2 separate regions of the Homo sapiens genome follow, and region 2 is linked to region 1. The links come from fine-mapping of genetic effects on gene expression. Tissue or cell type: putamen. Region 1 holds a variant in brackets; the other region holds the start of a gene. All regions are shown on one strand. Distances are between the middles of the regions.

What was found. PIP is the estimated chance that this variant, and not a neighbour inherited with it, causes the effect.
Region 2: it holds the start of OPRK1, and the variant in region 1 is the best candidate, but not a certain one, in a credible set for the expression of OPRK1 in putamen (GTEx, PIP 0.86).

The regions. Positions count from the first base shown.
Region 1 is chr8:53,609,410-53,613,590 of GRCh38, reverse strand. No RefSeq gene overlaps it. Among named protein-coding and RNA genes, the nearest start is that of LINC02984, 88 kb to the right of the region's middle. RefSeq lists an enhancer at 3,393-4,057. The variant T/G (reference allele first, on the strand shown) is at 2,118.
Region 2 is chr8:53,249,788-53,253,968 of GRCh38, reverse strand. It overlaps OPRK1 (opioid receptor kappa 1), which reads left to right and starts at 2,332. Exons shown (of 4, transcript NM_000912.5): 1 at 2,332-2,521; 2 at 2,884-3,188. The coding sequence starts at 2,932.

The DNA of each region.
Region 1 (4,181 bases):
ATCTGCAAACAGGGACAATTTGACTTCCTCTTTTCCTAATTGAATACCCTTTATTTCCTTCGCCTGCCTAATTGCCCTGGCCAGAACTTCCAACACTATGTTGAATAGGAGTGGTGAGAGAGGGCATCCCTGTCTTGTGCCAGTTTTCAAAGGGAATGCTTCCAGTTTTTGCCCATTCAGTATGATATTGGCTGTGGGTTTGTCATAGATAGCTCTTATTATTTTGAAATACGTCCCATCAATAGCTAATTTATTGAGAGTTCTTAGGGTTGTTGAATTTTGTCAAAGGCCTTTTCTGCATCTATTGAGATAATCATGTGGTTTTTGTCTTTGGCTCTGTTTATATGCTGGATTACATTTATTGATTTGCATATATTGAACAAGCCTTGCATCCCAGGGATGAAGCCCACTTGATCATGGTGGATAAGCTTTTTGATGTGCTACTGGATTCGTTTTGCCAGTATTTTATTGAGGATTTTTGCATCGATGTTCATCAAGGATATTGGTCTAAAATTCTCTTTTTTGGTTGTGTCTCTGCCAGGCTTTGGTATCAGAACGATGCTGGCCTCATAAAATGAGTTAGGGAGGATTCCCTCTTTTTCTATTGATTGGAATAGTTTCAGAAGGAATGGTACCAGTTCCTCCTTGTACCTCTGGTAGAATTCGGCTGTGAATCCATCTGGTCCTGGACTCTTTTTGGTTGGTAAGCTATTGATTATTGCCACAATTTCAGATCCTGTTATTGGTCTATTCAGAGATTCAACTTCTTCCTGGTTTAGTCTTGGGAGAGTGTATGTGTCAAGGAATTTATCCATTTCTTCTAGATTTTCTAGTTTATTTGCGTAGAGGTGTTTGTAGTATTCTCTGATGGTAGTTTGTATTTCTGTGGGATCGGTGGTGATATCCCCTTTATCATTTTTTATTGCATCTATTTGATTCTTCTCTCTTTTCTTCTTTATTAGTCTCACTAGTGGTCTATTTATTTTGTTGATCCTTTCAAAAAACCAGCTCCTGGATTCATTAATTTTTTAAAGGGTTTTTTGTGTCTCTATTTCCTTCTGTTCTGCTCTGATTTTAGTTATTTCTTGCCTTCTGCTAGCTTTTGAATGTGTTTGCTCTTGCTTTTCTAGTTCTTTTAATTGTGATGTTAGGGTGTCAATTTTGGATCTTTCCTGCTTTCTCTTGTGGGCATTTAGTGGTATAAATTTCCCTCTACACACTGCTTTGAATGCAAACCAGAGATTCTGGTATGTTGTGTCTTTGTTCTCATTGGTTTCAAAAAACATCTTTATTTCTGCCTTCATTTCGTTATGTCCCCAGTAGTCATTCAGGAGCAGGTTGTTCAGTTTCCATGTAGTTGAGCAGTTTTGAGTGAGTTTCTTAATCCTGAGTTCTAGTTTGATTGCACTGTGGTCTGAGAGATAGTTTGTTATAATTTCTGTTCTTTTACATTTGGTGAGGAGAGCTTTACTTCCAAGTATGTAGTCAATTTTGGAATAGGTGTGGTGTGGTGCTGAAAAAAATGTATATTCTGTTGATTTGGGGTGGAGAGTTCTGTAGATGTCTATTAGGTCCACTTGGTGCAGAGCTGCGTTTAATTCCTGGGTATCCTTGTTGACTTTCTGTCTCGTTGATCTGTCTAATGTTGACAGTGGGGTGTTAAAGTCTCCCATTATTATTGTGTGGGAGTCTAAGTCTCTTTGTAGGTCACTCAGGACTTGCTTTATGAATCTGGGTGCTCCTGTAGTGGGTGCATATATATTTAGGATAGTTAGCTCTTCTTGTTGAATTGATCCCTTTACCATTATGTAATGGCCTTCTTTGTCTCTTTTGATCTTTATTGGTTTAAAGTCTGTTTTATCAGAGACTAGGATTGCAACCCCTGCCTTTTTTTGTTTTCCATTTGCTTGGTAGAACTTCCTCCATCCTTTTATTTTGAGCCCATGTGTGTCTCTGCACGTGAGATGGGTTTCCTGAATACAGCACACTGATGGGTCTTGACTCTTTATCCAATTTGCCAGTCTGTGTCTTTTAATTGGAGCATTTAGTCCATTTACATTTAAAGTTAATATTGTTATGTGTGAATTTGATCCTGTCATGATGATGTTAGCTGGTTA[T/G]TTTGCTCGTTAGTTGATGCAGTTTCTTCCTAGTCTCGATGGTCTTTACATTTTGGCATGATTTTGCAGTGGCTGGTACCGGTTGTTCCTTTCCATGTTTAGTGCTTCCTTCAGGAGCTCTTTTAGAGCAGGCCTGGTGGTGACAAAATCTCTCAGCATTTGCTTGTCTGTAAAGTATTTTATTTCTCCTTCACTTCTGAAGCTTAGTTTGGCTGGATATGAAATTCTGGGTTGAAAATTCTTTTCTTTAAGAATGTTGAACATTGGCCCCCACTCTCTTCTGGCTTGTAGGGTTTCTGCCAAGAGATCCACTGTTAGTCTGATGGGCTTCCTTTTGAGGGTAACCCGACCTTTCTCTCTGGCTGCCCTTAACATTTTTTCCTTCATTTCAACTTTGGTGAATCTGACAATTATGTGTCTTGGAGTTGCTCTTCTCGAGGAGTATCTTTGTGGTGTTCTCTGTATTTCCTGAATCTGAACGTTGGCCTGCCTTGCTAGATTGGGGAAGTTCTCCTGGATAATATCCTGCAGAGTGTTTTCCAACTTGGTTCCATTCTCCCCGTCATTTTCAGGTACACCAATCCGACGTAGATTTGGTCTTTTCACATAGTCCCATATTTCTTGGAGGCTTTGCTCATTTCTTTTGTATTCTTTTTTCTCTAAACTTCCCTTCTCGCTTCATTTCATTCATTTCATCTTCCATCACTGATACCCTTTCTTCCAGTTGATCGCATCGGCTCCTGAGGCTTCTGCATTCTTCACGTAGTTCTTGAGCCTTGGTTTTCAGCTCCATCAGCTCCTTTAAGCACTTCTCTGTATTGGTTATTCTAGTTATACATTCTTCTAAATTTTTTTCAAAGTTTTCTACTTCTTTGCCTTTGGTTTGAATGTCCTCCCGTAGCTCAGAGTAATTTGATCATCTGAAGCCTTCTTCTCTCAGCTCGTCAAAGTCGTTCTCTGTCCAGCTTTGTTCCATTGCTGGTGAGGAACTGCGTTCCTTTGGAGGAGGAGAGGCGCTCTGCATTTTAGTTTCCAGTTTTTCTGTTCTGTTTTTTCCCCATCTTTGTGGTTTTATCTACTTTTGGTCCCTGATGATGGTGATGTACAGATGGGTTTTTGGTGTGGATGTCCTTTCTGTTTGTTAGTTTTCCTTCTAACAGACAGGACCCTCAGCTGCAGGTCTGTTGGAGTACCCTGCCGTATGAGGTGTCAGTGTGCCCCTGCTGTGGGGGTGCCTCCCAGTTAGGCTGCTCGGGGGTCAGGGGTCAGGGACCCACTTGAGGAGGCAGTCTGCCCATTCTCAGATCTCCAGCTGCGTACTGGGAGAACCACTGCTCTCTTCAAAGCTGTCAGACAGGGACATTTAAGTCTGCAGAGGTTACTGCTGTCTTTTTGTTTGTCTGTGCCCTGCCCCCAGAGGTGGAGCCTAGAGAGGCAGGCAGGCCTCCTTGAGCTGTGGTGGGCTCCACCCAGTTCCAGCTTCCTGGCTGCTTTGTTTACCTAAGCAAGCCTGGGCAATGGCTGGTGCCCCTCCCCCAGTCTCGCTGCCGCCTTGCAGTTTGATCTCAGACTGCTGTGCTAGCAATCAGCGAGACTCCGTGGGCGTAGGACCCTCTGAGCCAGGTGCCGGATATAATCTCATGGTGTGCGGTTTTTTAAGCCCGTCGGAAAAGCGCAGTATTCGGGTGGGAGTGACCCGATTTTCCAGGTGCCATCCGTCACCCCTTTCTTTGACTAGGAAAGGGAACTCCCTGACCCCTTGCGCTTCCCGAGTGAGGCAATGCCTCGCCCTGCTTCACTGGTGCACGGTGCACGCACCCACTGACCTGCCAGAGGCTCTTCATACATCGCGAACCCGCAGACACTGCCAGGCTCCCTGGCTTTGCAGGGTTCACTCCCAGGGGCCTTGTCTTTTTAGGTGAACGTTTCCAGGGCTGCAGTTTAAAGACACAGGATCAAAGTCTCGCCTGCCTGAGCGGAGTGGCTTGGGCTCTCCCCAGGCCTCTGGGATTCTCTCTGGAGAGCAAAGCAGTGACCCACACATATCACTGGTGCAGGGTCTCT
Region 2 (4,181 bases), 360 kb after region 1:
TGGGTATTTATTATAACAACTTGCTGACAGATCTAAGTAAAGTGCCTTATGAAAGGGATGCTATTTTTAAATTTCATGCAAATTTGCTGCACTGGCTATCACTGTTTATTAAACACCTTTCCACATAACATTTGCCAGAGTTGGATGAATTTGTTATTAATTATTTATTAATTATTCCTAACATTAAAAAAATTTAGATCCCATGTGTCACACTAGCTTCACATCCTCTTTGAGAAGAGATTGTCTCTGTGTTGGTATTGTTGTATCCCCAGAGGGTGCCTTTTCTTCAGCCACTTGGGGATACTCTGCAATATCTGCTGAGTGAAGTGAGCTGAAGCCAGCTGCATCCCGGCTCAGCAAGACTCCATTGGCTGCACTGGGGTCTTAAGCTAATGAAGTTGCTCCCTCCAGCTCTGCACTCATTGCTGCACAACAATATCTGTTGTTGGAGCCACAAGAAAGGGAGTTAATTGCAATTTACTGGTGGGTTATCTAGTCTATCTAACAAAAATGTCAAAGCCACCCACTACCCAGGATGCTCCTTAGCATTGTAGCATTATCCAATAAAAATCTCCACATTTTCATCTTTAAAAGTGCTTTCCATGTACTTAGTTATAAGCATAGTGTTTGCATTGAGTAGAATGGCCAAGTATAACCACATGTGCTTTATATCAGTGTGTAACAGTATATAGCATTTTAGCAGTTTACTTTTCCTTTCTATTTTATGAGCTTTTATCTGATATTATGATAAAATTGCATACTCCTAAGAGCATGACTCCACAGAAGCAGCCATACTTCCTGGATTTAGAGACTCGAGTGGGTTCCCCTGGCAACCTGAGCCACCTGAGGGCTTCTCAATGCTCTGTTCATTTTGTCTTCCCTTTATTTTGGCCATTAATTTGGTAAACAAGAAAGGTAAGAGTGCTCAAATGAAATAAAACTACTGAGGCCCTTATGAGGTCTCAGCAGGTCTGATGTGTTACTGAAGGAGATGTGATCCTTCAATGACAGTTTGCAATCAGACTTAAAAGAACTCTAAGACTTGATAATAATTTTCAAAATTATTTGAAAGGGTTGAAGGGATATGGTTGAACAAAGGGAAGATTTCCTTATGCTCTTCATATTACACTGCTCAAAAGAGTTGTTCATCTCCAGGCGGCAAGACGCTGGTGGTCAAATCCCACTTTGGGGTCATGGCGTCTTGAAAGAGACAGGAACCCCCTTCTGCCCTCCGCTGATGGAGGGAAGGGCTGTATCAGTCATTAGTGTGTCCAGGTGTGGCATGGACATTAGCTGTGGGATGCAGTGGGGACCTGTGTTTGTCAGCCTGAGGCAGTGAATCCACTGGGGAAATTGAGGTGCCTAAACCCCCAGTCTCCCCCAGGCCTGTCTCCAGTACCCTGTGGAGAAGGGGAACTTCCCCACTCCCTTTCAGAACCTTCACCTCAGGGGCTGAGCCCTTGCTCCCTTTGTGTCTTGCCGGTCCCTTTGCCTGAGAAGAGAATGTCTCTCACTCAGCAGGATCTGACAGCTACCCTTGGACTAGCAGAGTTTTGCAAAGAAATGATGGTGACAGTTTATTTACGGACGCTCAGATTCGCGGCCGTATAATGGAGGCAGCCCTACTGTGAGGGAGAAGTGAGGAGAACGTGATGGCTGCAGGGATTAATGTAAAACAGAGACACTGTCACCTCCCTGGAGCACCACTGAGGCCCGGGTAAGGAGAGTGTTTTGCCCTTCTCAGATACTATCAGCAATTCAGGTAATACCCGTAAGGTGCAGTTTGTCTGCAGCCTGTCATCCCAGTTAGAGCAGACGGAATGGAAGAGAACGCAAGGAAATATTCTATTTATGTGTCTTTTAAGTCATTATTTTATGAACTGGTCTTATTCTAACTGGATCATTTTGTTACTTTCTTTGGATGGGCCATTCTAATAAGCGTAGTTCCTGACTGCGAACTATGCAGATAAGAAGTTCTAGACACAATATGAAAATCCAGGTGCATACTTGCACTAAATAGGCATGCTCCTCCTTTTTACTAAATCTAAATGGCTCAGTCTCAGGTCTTGGGGAAGGCTGCATGGCCGGGGACCAGGCGGTGTGCCGCTCGGGCAGTTAGTGGGCCGGGCGAGCCTGCGGGGCTGGAGGGGACGCGGGGCTGGGAGGCTGGGGAGCTGGGGGCTGACTCCGGGCGGGCGGGGCGGGGCAGGGACCTGCCGGCCTGGGGCGGGCGCACCAGACGAGCTCTCCGCCCGCAGGCCCCCAGCGCCCAGCCGCGTCCCGGCTGCGTCCCGCCGGTCCCGCCCCGCCCCGCCCCGCAGAGCCGCCGCCAGTAGTGGGAGACGTGCGCTGAGAGGCGGGGGCTGCGCTCGGCGGAACAGCAGCCCTCGGGCGGAGAGCGGGGCCGGGGTCCGAGAGCAGGTGATGCCAAGAGCTGAGCGGGACTCGTGAGCGCGCGGTTCAGCACCTACCAGGGCGTCCCGTAAAAAACCTCGCCTTCGCCTGTCTCTGGGAACCATAGGTAAGCTTTGGGCTTTCGAGGTGCAGTTCTAGGTAGAGCTCCGTGCTGGGAGGTGGGAAGGGGGCTTGACCCTGGGGACTCAGGCAGTCTGGGGACAGTTCCACCAGGGGCCGGTGCCTAGAATTGGTGAGGGAGGCACCTCAGGGGCTGGGGGAGAAGGAGCGAGCGCTCTTCGCCCCTCTCTGGCACCCAGCGGCGCGCCTGCTGGCCGGAAAGGCAGCGAGAAGTCCGTTCTCCCTGTCCTGCCCCCGGCGACTTGCGGCCCGGGTGGGAGTCCGCAGGCTCCGGGTCCCCAGCGCCGCTGGCCAGGGCGCGGGCAAAGTTTGCCTCTCCGCGTCCAGCCGGTTCTTTCGCTCCCGCAGCGCCGCAGGTGCCGCCTGTCCTCGCCTTCCTGCTGCAATCGCCCCACCATGGACTCCCCGATCCAGATCTTCCGCGGGGAGCCGGGCCCTACCTGCGCCCCGAGCGCCTGCCTGCCCCCCAACAGCAGCGCCTGGTTTCCCGGCTGGGCCGAGCCCGACAGCAACGGCAGCGCCGGCTCGGAGGACGCGCAGCTGGAGCCCGCGCACATCTCCCCGGCCATCCCGGTCATCATCACGGCGGTCTACTCCGTAGTGTTCGTCGTGGGCTTGGTGGGCAACTCGCTGGTCATGTTCGTGATCATCCGGTGAGCGCGGGGACAGCGCAGCGCTGGGGGCTGGGCGGGGCAGGGAGTGAGGGTCAGGCCCCGCCACTGGAGCAGCAGTGGGGGCAGCCAGCCAGGTGGTGGGGACTCTGTTCCGTGAAGGATCCTGGAAATGCTACAGGGTGGCTTCCTAGAAGAGGTGAAGGATTTTCTGGGAGTTTTTGGTGGAGTGCTGAGAGGTTCACACAGGCGAATCCGAGCGGCCAGGGGCGTCTGGAAGATTTCAGAGTAACCCCCCGACCCCACCCTAGGGCCCAGTGTTTCTGCTGAAAACTCTATGCGCAGGGCAAGGTGCCAGGGTGCTGACAACAGGGTCAGGGGTTCCTGGTAAAGGAACTAATCCATTTGCCTGCGCCAGTTTGGAGCACTTTGTTATGCCCTTTGCAAATATTTCTTAAGATAAATTTCAAGCCCACCCAATGCACTGAAGATAATTCCGAATTTCCTGGGACTCCTCAGACTGGTGTTTTGGCTTATGAAACAAAACCTGATATATGCTCTAGCGTTGTTGATATGCATATATGAGCCTTTTTAGTATCAAATGGCATCCCATTTGTTAGGAATATCAGTAAATAATATTTATCCTCTAAAACATGGCCTGTGGAGATTTTCAAAAACTACTTCGCTGTTTTTTTCACCATGAGAAATTGAAGGTTTTATTTGTGTGTGTGTGTGTGTGTGTGTGTGTGTGTGGAAATTTCTTCAAGTCAACTTCCAATAATAAGTATCCCAATATCCACATATATGCTAATTTTTTGGTAAGCAAAGTGATTCTGACTTTAAGAAAGAAAAACAAGAAAAGGAAAACCTAACTTTGTTCTGCACTTTTCTTAAGATAGATGTGTTTCCTTTTCTGGGAGCACTAGAGCTTTGTCAACACACCTGTGAGAGGGAGTAGGAAGCTTGTGTTCCTTTGAGAAGTCTCTATGAAATAAGGGCGGGATGCAAGTCACCCTGGCTAGGGACTCTGAAACG